Linked DNA regions of Homo sapiens. The protein of the gene in region 3 purifies or fractionates together with the protein of the main gene of each other region. This does not show direct contact. Each region holds a gene or a part of one and is shown on either strand. Other genes may lie near its edges.

What was found.
Region 1: the proteins of FBXL18 (region 3) and ACSF3 purify together in Homo sapiens (affinity purification with western blotting, with the first as the bait; one study listed by BioGRID). This does not show direct contact.
Region 2: the proteins of FBXL18 (region 3) and GNA11 purify together in Homo sapiens (affinity purification with mass spectrometry, with the first as the bait; one large-scale study listed by BioGRID). This does not show direct contact.

Annotation. Positions count from the first base shown.
Region 1 is NC_000016.10:89,152,755-89,156,780, forward strand, and holds the end of ACSF3 (malonate--CoA ligase ACSF3, mitochondrial isoform 1 precursor), read left to right. Parts: intron 1-1,335; coding exon 1,336-1,453; 3' UTR 1,454-3,479; downstream 3,480-4,026. UniProt on the Homo sapiens protein: Catalyzes the initial reaction in intramitochondrial fatty acid synthesis, by activating malonate and methylmalonate, but not acetate, into their respective CoA thioester. May have some preference toward very-long-chain substrates.
Region 2 is NC_000019.10:3,107,787-3,111,430, forward strand, and holds part of GNA11 (guanine nucleotide-binding protein subunit alpha-11), read left to right. Parts: intron 1-2,362; coding exon 2,363-2,547; intron 2,548-3,644. UniProt on the Homo sapiens protein: Guanine nucleotide-binding proteins (G proteins) function as transducers downstream of G protein-coupled receptors (GPCRs) in numerous signaling cascades.
Region 3 is NC_000007.14:5,496,795-5,500,438, forward strand, and holds part of FBXL18 (F-box/LRR-repeat protein 18), read right to left. Parts: intron 1-3,644. UniProt on the Homo sapiens protein: Substrate-recognition component of the SCF (SKP1-CUL1-F-box protein)-type E3 ubiquitin ligase complex.

The DNA.
Region 1 (4,026 bases), on a different chromosome or scaffold from region 3:
CAGGTAAGGTGACGCATACCTGTAGCACTTCGGGAGGATCCTTTGAGCCCAGGAAGTCGAGGCTTCAGTGAGCCATGACTGCACCACTGCACTCTGGCCCAGGCAACAGTGAGATCCTGTCCTAGAAAGAAAAGAGAAAAAAAGAAAAATGCGATTTGGAAATGTGGAGGTCGAGGTTGACAGCGACACCGAGGTCGAAGCCAGTTGCCCCTGGAGAGCGAGAGACTGGGCTGGGCCGACTCCCACCTCTGTCGCGAGAGGCCTACGGGCAGGGGCAGGTGGGCAGGGGGACTGTGCTGGGTCTCTGGCCGCGTCTGGACGGCAGGCGACACTTTCTCCACAAAAAGCGTCAAGAAACCACGACACTTGGTTTCTGGACTTTTCCGCGGAACAGTAACCAGAACAATCGCCATGAAGGTTCGTTTCTGTCATGGCTCAGTGCAGCCTGGACGCCCTGGACCAGCCCCTCCTGCGCCTGGGCCACGGCCGCTGCCTTCAGGGCATCACTGGTGGGCGGCACAACCATCCTCCCTTTGGGGGGTTAATTTCATTTCTTTCCTCCCTTCTTTAATGGTGAATGGAGGAGCACCGAGCACCACTGCAGTCTCAGTTTCAGATCCCAGCGCCTCGTCCCTGCCCACTGCCCTCGGCCCCGCCCGCCTGCATTGGCAGTGCCCTGGCCCCACCCACCCGTGTCAGCACCGCCCACCGCCCTGGCACCACCCACCGAGTTCTCGCCCATGAGGAAGGGGGACCCTGAGTGGAGGTTTCAAACCTTAGGGGCCGTCCCTGCCGTGCAGGGCTCTGTGAGGCCTCTTGCCACATAGGCTTGTGTCTGCAGGACTGTGCGGCATTTACTCCCATCTCAAATACCCCATACAGGGCAGACTGCCCCTGCCCCACCTGCCCACCCACTCCCCAGCCTCTTCCGCACGCCTCCTCTGGAAGGGGAACGGGCCACAGAGTGAAATGGGGCCTTCCAGCTCCAGTGCGGGGACTTGGAAGGCCTGGCCCGGTGTGGGGGCCCCTCTGCCCTGCAGGCCACTCTGTGCAGGCCTATCCTCAGGTGTGCCCTCGCCCAAGGCCTGCACGCACCATGGCTTCTGTGGTACCAGTGATAACACCATGCCGGGCACCTCCTGCAGTCACCACCCCTGGGCTGCTAGGGCAGAGACAGCTGCGGTGGCCCGGTGCACCTGCCTGGCCTCAGGATGGCCGAGGCGCCTGGCAAGGCTGCAGGGTCCCAGGGGCACCTGTCCGTACTGCTGGGCGCCTGAGTTCCTCCTGCTGGGCACTGTCAGGGCAGTGCGCCTCAGGCTGTGCTTGTCTCTGCAGAAATGTCCTGGCCCCGTACGCGGTGCCCTCGGAGCTGGTGCTGGTGGAGGAGATCCCGCGGAACCAGATGGGCAAGATTGACAAGAAGGCGCTCATCAGGCACTTCCACCCCTCATGACCCGGCAGACTGGGACTGCGGGTCTGGTGGGGAGCAGCAGACGTCCCCTTCACACCGAGAACCACGGGGGCCCGTCCAAGACCTGGCCTCCCTTAAACCTGAACCCCCCAAATCAGGTCACGTAGAATCAAGAACTGTTTGGGATGAAATCACCATGTGGGGTCCCCAGCCTCGGGCCAGTTGTTGCAGCTCAAGGAGACCGTCCCTGGTGTCACCTCTGCCTGGTCACCGCCGACCTCATCTGTGCAGCGCGGTGCAGCCAGCCCCTGGCCCCACGTGCTGAGGCACCTCCCGCCCCACAGTGCCCTGCAGTTGCCAGGCTCTCCAGGGCAGGTCCCAGAGGTTTCCCACAAAAAACAAAGACTCCACTGGAGGAAACAAGCCCCTGTCCCACGCCGTCTGCACGTGCCTGTGCCTCACCCAGAGCCAGTGTCTCCCGGCCCACATAGGAGGTCTGGGCAGCCACCCAGGGGGCCCTCCTGGGAGGAGCTGAGGGTTCACAAGCCTCCCAGAACCAGCCCTGTCCCATGGGTTCCGTGCATTTCCTGGTGCTGCTCTTGGAGGAGAGCAGCTCCCACTGTGGGGACACCTGCCACCCTGCACACTACTGTGTGTCCATCAGCATGTGTCACAGAAAGTGCGTGGACGGATGGCCCCGGAGCTGCTCTGCCGTGACCCTGCCTCACCCCCCAGCGCAGGGACTTTCCAGGTCATCTCCACACCAGCCCCTCAGCCGGTGAACCCTCTCTCCCATCACCGTCTCCACCCAGACCCCCACCTGCCCCATGGCCCCCATTTCATGTCTGTGGCTCACCAGCTTTTCCCCAGACCCAGCTCCGGAGCCCACAGGCGTGGCCGATGCAGAAACCTCAGGAAGGTGTGTTGTGAATGTTGGGTGCACCCACGTTGCATTTACTTAGCGGGGCCAATTCAGATGCACAGGGGCCACATGCAGAATCCAGAAGTTTCTGGACAATTTTCAGAAGAATAGGCTGCCTCCTCCCCACAGCCTGGGGGAAGTAACAGTCATCGCCCAGCAGTGTCTGGCCTGAACTTACCCAGAACATTCTGCCCCCGGAATGCACGTCTGAAAGAGTGGCCAGAAACGAGTGTGCCGGGCAGGAGGCCAGCCCCATCTCAGGCTCACGTGCCTCTGACAGGAGACCAGCCCCATCTCAGGCTCACATGCCTCGCGGACAGTTGGACGTGGCCTGGGGCCCCTGCTCACTTGAGCATGTCGCCCACCAAGCTTGTCTGAGGCCACAGAGCAGCGTCCCAGCCCTGTTTTCCAGGACTGGTGGGTGCCCCAGTCCACGGCCCTGCCCCACCCGAACTCCTGCCTCACGGTGTGGCCTTGTGCATCCCCATGGCCTGACCCCGGGAACAGTCAGAGGAAGGGGTCCCGCCCTCCCGCCAGAGGCCTGGACCCAAGGGAACGGCAGTCAGAGACTACAGTCCAGACGTTTGTGTCTAGGCCTTGCTGGTAGCTAAGGAAATGCCTTCTGTTGGGAAAAGGTCAAATTTAACATAGCAAAATTTTTACTTAATTCCACTAATTTTACATTTGCATCTCTCTCCTTTAATCCTGAAACTTTTGATTCCTAAAAAGCTTACATAATCATTTGCTTTATCCGATAGTATACATCAGTATATCATGCTTTCGAAATAATGAGTGTAACTTTCTGCTGACAATACTACAAACTACAGAAAGCCTGGAGCTCATTGACCAGAAACTGCAGAGAGCCTGGAGCTCGTTGACCACAAACTACAGAAAGCCTGGAGCTCGTTGACCAGCCGGTTGACCAGAATACGGTGCTCCAAGGACATGCGGTTGAATGCCGTGTTCTAAAGTCACGAGTGACTCTCCAGCTGGTCCCTGTGCCAGGCTGGTCGGCCTTCGTGCACACAGTCCGCCAGTGCCCAGCCAGGCCCCTGGTTCCCCTCTGCTCCACCAGCCGAGAACAAGCCCGTCCTGGAGGGAACTCATCCTCTCCTCCCTCCCCATTAAAGCCCAGTTTATTCCCCATCTTGGCCTCTGGTGCTGACCTGGCCTCTGGAGACACAGGCCGGGGGGTGCTGTTTGCGAACTCACCGTGACTGAGCTCCATGAGGATACCACAGTCCCACGTGGCTGGCAGCGCCCACCCCACACACCCTGCCCCTTGCTGGGCGGCCCCATGCCACAAAAGTTAGACCCAGGAGCAGGTGCCCTGGGAGCAGGCTGCCACCAGCTGGGTCAGAAGCCCCTCTACATGCCTGGTGCTTTTGACCTCCTAGGGAGGCTGGCTTGAATCTGGAAAGTCACCAGTTCTGACCCCAGCCAGACACAGGGGTGCTGCCAGGAGCTGCTCCCAGGCGGGTGGCCCAGCTTCTCTCAGGCACCAGGGGATGGCAGGACTCCTGGTGACCAGCTGGTCCCCAAAGCCGTGGCACCGCGCCTGCTGCTGCCAGCAAAGTCCCACACACAGCCTGTGGCAGGTGCCGCCCCATTCTTTCTGCCCCTCCCTCATCAGGGGCCAGGGTGAAGCCCCTGCCGCCCTCTGCCTTCCCTCCACCTGCGGCTTCCCTGGCAG
Region 2 (3,644 bases), on a different chromosome or scaffold from region 3:
AGCACCGGTCAGTAGAGCTGAGGCCGAGGATCCCTGGCCTCAGATTGCATCCCCTCCATGCCACCGCCCTTCTCTTCAGGGCGCGGTGAGGGAAGGGCGTGTGGGGGTCCCTCTGGGGAGAAGGTGTTTTCACCTTCACACTCACCCTCACTCCTCCTGTCCTGGAACTTGGGTGGGTTTGACCTTTTGTGGATGAGGTGAGGGCTGAGAGGTGGATTACTACCTGAGACAATCAAAATCAATTTTCTTTCTTCTGAAAAGGACTCAGGGTGTTTGAGAAAAGTACTGGGGAGAGGCAGCTGCCACCGGGGCTCCCCACTCGGGATGTGTTGGGTGTTTTGCGAGACCCCCCACAGGGAGCTCAGGTGCTGTGGGCAGTTCCTGGGCTTTGTCGAGGGCCTCCCGAAGGCAGCACTGTGGCCACCGTGGGACACATGCAGCCTGTCTCATCTCTAGGAGCTGCCAGGTGAGGGGTCCTGCGACAGGCACCTGTGCAAAGATATCTACCATGGGCAGCAAGGAAGGTTCCAGAAAGTACCGGAGGGAGAGTTGTGTTGGGGCTTGGGGGCTTTCTAGAGCAGAGGCTGTGAGAGGAAGTGAGCTGGGTCCCAGCACCAGGCAGCCTTTAGGCAGCTGTGATTGGAACAGCACTGTGGGCAGAGGGCAACAGCGTAGGACGTGTGTGGAAGTGGGGAGGTGCCGGAAGATTCAGAGACACAGGGTGGTGAAGGCGAGCCTGGAGAAGTGGGCTGGGGGCATGCTGGGAGGGGGCGGTGACGCTTGAGTCTCTAGGGCACCGGGGGCCTGAGCAAGGTTAATACCTGAGTAGAGAGTTGAGGCAGTCTCTTTTTAGAAATTAGAAGTTAACTATTGCTGTGTAATGGGGTCACCCCAAAACTTCGCAACTTAAATTAACAAAACTTATTTCAGATAGTTTCTGAGGGTTGGGAATGTGGGAGCACTTTGTTGAGTGATCCTGGCTTGGGGTCTCTCAGAAGTTGTAGTCAGGATACCAGCCAAGCAGGGGCCACATCATTTGAAGGCTGGACTGGAGCTGGAGGAGCCACTCACAAGTTGGCTCCCTCTAGTGGCTGTTGGTGGGAGGCCTCAGTTCCTCACCACGTGGGCCTCTCCGTGAAGCTGCTTGAGGGTCCTCACAGCGTGGCGGCTGCCTACCCCAGAGCCCCTGACCCGAGACTGAGGGCAAGGAGGAAGGCCTGTGCCTTTTGTGAACTGGCCTTGGAGATGGCACACTGTCACTTCCATCACATTCTGTTTGCTAGAAGCAGGTCACTAAGTGTAGCCCATGCTCAAGGGGAGGGGAATTAGGTTCCAGTATGGAAGGGATGAGCATCAGAGATTTGTGGACACACTGGAAAACCCAGCATTGGCATCCCAGCGTGTGAGGGTGAAGAAAAGTGGGGAGACGGAGTCTCTGCCCAGGAGGTGACCAGGTGAGAGGCAGAGGCAGGAGAGGGGCTGGAGTGAGGACCCCCATGTCACCCAGAATGTGTGGGGGGCTCATCTGGAGGCTGGGGTGGAGCGACAGCTGGCCACATGGGCCCCCTTCCCGATAGTTTTTCCAGGCTGACTTGCTAATCCTTTTCATCCTCTGGGGCCCTGGGACCATCAGTGTGCCCATCTCTGAGATGGGGTGGTAGCGTACTCGTCTCTGGAAGCATTGTGGGTATTAGCAAGGTCGTGGCAGGCGTGGAGACGTAAAGGGGTTCAGGGATGTGCTCAGGGCCACCTGTGGCAGGCACAACGGTCCTGGCTGACCCCGCCACAGCACCAAGAGGGAGAGGGGAGAGCCTCGTGGGTGCTTGGTGCGCAGGGGGCAGTGTGGCCGTGGCCGCTGAGCAAAGCTCTGGGGAAGGGGGCGCCCAGCCCTTGGGGTGGTCTGTGCAGAGATGCCGTTGGGGTGAGTCCGTCTGTCAGGGCACCGCCGCCACGTCTGTGTGCTGTCCCTCTGGTGAGCATTGGTCATGAACTGGCGTGACCGTGGTGGAGCTGCACAGTCCCAGCTGCGGGGCCGGTGCCGTGCGACTTGATTTGGCCTGAGACCGTGTGGTCTTTGACGTAAATACCAACAATTGGCCCCCAGGAAAGTGTGTCCTTGCAGAACTTCTGGAAAAGGGGTGGTTCCAGTAAGACCCTGGCTTGGTGGAAGATGGGAAGGGCGCTTTGTAAACTCTTTCCGAGGAGTCAGGAGGCCGTGGCGTCTGGTGGAGAGACGGTCAGCCTCACGTGCCTTGGTTTCCTGTGCTGGGTGCTGCAGCACGGCAGGGTCTGGGTAAGAGGGGGCAGCAGCACGAGAGTCAGGCCCCGGCTGCCGCCCGCCCTCACGTGCCCCGTCCCCCAGGCACGGGCGAGAGCGGGAAGAGCACGTTCATCAAGCAGATGCGCATCATCCACGGCGCCGGCTACTCGGAGGAGGACAAGCGCGGCTTCACCAAGCTCGTCTACCAGAACATCTTCACCGCCATGCAGGCCATGATCCGGGCCATGGAGACGCTCAAGATCCTCTACAAGTACGAGCAGAACAAGGTGAGCCCGCGGGCGCCTGGGGAGGGGAGCGCCTGGGCAGCTGTGGGCTTGGTGGTGAGCATGGTGGCCGCGCTGCCAGGGTGGGGCCATGCCGGGGGTCCCGGCCGGCCCAGGCTACCCCTGGTCATCCATCCGTTCCTGTCATGGACATGGAAACAGCAACCGCTGACTTCCTGGGGGCCAACTGGAGAGTTGTGATGGGCATTGCGTGGCCAAGCCCCACAGCCTCCCTCCCAAGTAGCTGTGGGCGCCCACATCCTGTGGGTGGGGAAGCTGAGGCCCTGGGGAAGCTGAGGCCCTGTGAGGTGAGCCACTCGCCCAGGTCGCCTTGGGAGTAAGCAGCGTGAGCTCCTGGTTCCGGCCCCTTCCCCAGGCTGAGCAGCCTACCAGGCACCTCGTTTCGGCCCTGACACTCACCCATGGGGCTGTACTTCTCACCTTCTCACACTGTTTTTTTGTTTTGTTTTGTTTTGTTTTGTTTTGAAAACAGGGTCTCGCTCTGTCGCCCAGGCTGGAGTGCAGTGGAATGGTCAAGGCTCATCACAGCCTGGACCTTCTGGGCTCAGGTGATCCCACCACAGCCTCCCGGGTAGCTGGGACTGCAGGTGCATCACCACGCCTAGCTAATTTTTGTATTTTTTGTAGAGATGGAATTTCACCATGTTGCCCAGGCTGGTCTTGAACTCCTGGGCTCAAGCAGTCCTCCCGCTTTGGCCTCCCAAAGTGCTGGGATTACAGGTATGAGCCACCATGCCTGGCCTCCGCCCTGGTTTTTTTTCTTTTTTTTTTGATAAAGTAGAGGTCATTTGATGCCCTGTTTTTAAATCACAGCTTTATTGAGTTATAATTCACATTCTATGCACTTCACTTGCTTAAAGTGTATAATTTGGTGGTTTTCGATATGTTTGCATAGTCGTGCAGCCATCACCGCTGTCGGATTCCAGATTTCATTTTCTCAAAGGAAGCCCCTTCCCCATCGGCCGTCACTCCCACCCCCTCCTCCAGCCCCGGCACCCACACATCCCCTTCCTGCCTCTGTGGATCGGTCTGTCCTGAACATTTCATAGAAATGGGATTGCACGCCATGTGGCCTTTTG
Region 3 (3,644 bases):
GTGGGCGGATCACCTGAGGTCAGGAGTTCGAGACCAGCCTGGCCAACATGGTGAAACCCCGTCTCTACTAAAAATACAAAAAAAAAATTAGCCGAGTATGGTGGTGGGCACCTGTAATCCCAGCTACTCTGGAGGCTGAGACAGGAGAATCGCTTGAATCCAGGAGGCAGAGGTTGCAGTGAGCTGAGATCATGCCATTGTACTCAAGCCTGGGTGACAGAGTGAGACTCTGTCTCAAAAAAAAAAAAAAAAAAAAACTAGCCGGGCATGGTCGCATGTGCCTATAGTCCCAGCTACTCGGGAGGCTGAGGTGGGAGGATCACCTGAGCCAGAGAAGGTCGAGGCTGCAGTGAGCTGTGATCATGCCACTGCACTCCGGTCTGGGAGACAGAATGAGACCATTTTTAAAAAAAAAAAGTGGGAAAGCCCAAATTTTACATGCATTTTGCGTCAAATTTCTAAAGCAGGGAGATTCTGAAAAGTCGCCCGTCTGGTTCTCAAAGCAGTCGCCCGTCCTGGTTCTCCAGGATGCCTGGGTCAGAGCATGAATAACCACCCCGCTCCCCACGCACGGAGCCTCGCAGTGGCTCGAGCTGAGAATCAAAGCGGCCGATCCAGGGCCTGGTGACTCCACCAGACAGGAAATACAGAGGCTTCTAGCAATCTGCTCTGCCATTTGAAAGTCCTGGGTTTGATCCTGCGCTTCTCAACCCAACACTAACAGGTCTGCAGTGGGAGGAGGTCGAGAGGGAGGGTGGCGCCAAGCTGGCTGCATGGCCGGGGGACTCCAGGGTGTGAGCCTCCAGCTCGGCTGCTCCCGAGCAGACCCGGCCACTTCCTGCCATGCCTTCTGCGGGAGAGGGGAGATTTACAAGGGGCGCCCTTATCTCTACTCTGCATGGCTCCAGGGCCAAGGTCAAGCACCGGTGTTTGCGAGAGACTCAGCTCCCCCTGAGCTCCCACAGCCTCATCTGGGAAATGGGAATGATCAAGGCTGCAATCGCAGCAGATTATGGCAGGGAGGATGGGCTCAGTGCATGGCTCTCAGCAAAGGCACAAGGTGAATGCTAACTATTCTGGGGACAATGACACGTGCCCACGTGCCCCTTAGGCTGGAGCATGACTTCATGTACCCGCAACCCACCCCACCAGCTAAGGACTCACAGAGACACCAGCTCACTCATCTAAGCCCTGCCTCCACTTTCTCCCCCACCCAGTCCCTGGTAGTACTGAGGCTCAAGGCCTTCACTACCTTTTGGGTAATTTTTTTTCTTTTTTCTTTTTACTTTTTTTTTTTTTTTTTTGAGACCGAGTCTCACTCTGTCACCCATGCTGGAGTGCAGCGGCCAGTGGCGCGATCTCGGCTCACTGCAAGATCCGCCTCCCGGGTTCATGCCATTCTCCTGCCTCAGCCTCCTAAGCAGCTGGGACTACAGGCGCCCACCACCACGCCCAGCTAATTTTTTGTATTTTTAGTAGAGACGGGTTTCACCGTGTTAGCCAGGATGGTCTCGATCTCCTGACCTTATGATCCACCCGCCTCGGCCTCCCAAAGTGCTGGGATTACAGGCGTGAGCCACGGCGCCCGGCCGAGGCCATTTTGATTTTTACTTTAAAGGCTCGCCACATGGACAAAGGCCAGGGGGCTTCACACGCTCAGTCAACTCCAGGTACAGACCCCACCTATTCAGGGCTCTTCGCGTGTTCTGGCCTCCCTGGCAAAGTGCTGGGATTACAGGCGTGAGCCGCCACGCCCGGCCCATTTGGGGTAATTTTTCTTTTCTTTGCTTTTCTTTTTGAGAGTCTCACTCTGTCACCCAGGCTGGAGTGCAGTGGTGTGATCTGGCTCACTGCAACCTCTGCCTCCCGGGTAAAGAGCAATTCTCCTGCCTCAGCCTCCTGAGTAGCTGGGACTACAGGTGCCTGCTCCCACGCCCCGCTAATTTCTGTATGTTTTTGGTAGAAACAGAGTTTTACCATGTTGGCCAGACTGGTTTCCAACTCCTGACCTTAGATGATCCGCACACCTTGGCCTCCCAAACTGCTGGGATTACAGGAGTGAGCCACCATGCCCAAACCCATTTTGGGTAATTTTTCAAGATCAGATTTATTGGCCAAGATTTTCAAATTCATCTCAAGTTAACGAATTCTTATTCCTTAAATACTAGGAACGGACAAGAACACCGTTCACTCCACAGCACAATTCAGCATAAATTCATGTTGTGCTTGGCTCTGGAAATGCCATGGGCCCTGGACACTGTCTGGTGTGGAGCTCTCCCAGGCCTGTTGTTCCACCTCCTCCCCGCTCTGGGATGGGTCCTGCTCCTAGTCCCAAGGACCATCACCTCCCAGGAGTCTGTGGTCCCCCTCCTGAGCCGACCTCTCCTGTCTCCTCCATCCTGTGCCCTGAAGTCCATCTGGGATGCCCAGGGAGGCTGCTCCCTCTCCCGGGTGAAACCCCTCGGCACTGTTGCCCACCTTCCTTGTCTGCCCCATCTTCCCTACTCCCTCCCACCTCCCATTGTGCCCTGGACCCTCTGAACCGACTGCTCTCTGAAACGACTGCTCTCTGAACCGACTGCTCTCTGACATACTTCCAAGTCTCTGGGGTTTCTTCACATGGTACTTACTGACCCAGAAAGCATCTGCCTTGCCAGGCGTGGTGACTTATGCCTTGTAATCCCAGAACTTCGGGAGGCTGAGGCAGGTGAATCACCTGAGGTCAGGAGTTCAAGACCAGCCTGGCCAATACTGCAAAACCCCGTCTCTACTAAAAATACAAAAAAATTAGCCAGGTGTGGTGGTGCACACCTGTAGTCCCAGCTGCTCGGGAGGCTGAGGTGGGAGAATCGCTTGAACCCAGGAGGCAGGGGTTGCAATGAACCAAGATCGCGCCACTGCACTCCAGCCTGGGTGTGTAGAATGAGACTCTGTCTCAAAAAAAAAAAAAGAAAAAAAAAAAAAAAGCAAAGATGGAGGCCAAGGGTGGTGGCTCACACCTGTAATCCCAGCACCAGCACTTTGGGAGGCCGAGATGGAGGATCACTTAAGCCCAGGAGTTCAAGACCAGTCTGGGCAACATAGTGAGACCTTGTCTGTACACAATTTTAAAAATATATATATAGCCAGGCATGATGGCATATGCCTGTAGTCCCAGCTACTTGATAGGCTGAGGTAGGAGGATTAATTGAGCCCAGGAGATTGAGGATGAAGTGAGCTATGATGGCACCACTGCACTCCAGCTTGGATGACAGAGCGAGACCCTGTCTCAAAAATAAATAAATAAATAAAATTTAAATTAAAAAAAAAAAAGGAATTGCATTGCAAAGTCAGGTCAGAAAGGCCTGGGTTCGAATCCTGCCTCCCCCACCTACTGGCTCTGCTGAGTGGCAACAATGATGCACCTGGCAGGGTCCTGAGACGATTTCACAGGATGACTCATAGTAGGGCCAGGCAGTCACTCAAACACTATCAGGAATAAAGACACTAAGCTCAGACATCCGCCTCCTGCACCCCCAGCTCCTCTAGATGCCGCTCTCCCCAGAGCCCCGAGACCGACGTGGCACGCTGCGAGGCCCCGCCCCAGCCTCTGCACTCCTGGAGGGCAGGCCAGCCACCGAACTCCACGCGAACGCCCCAGTTCC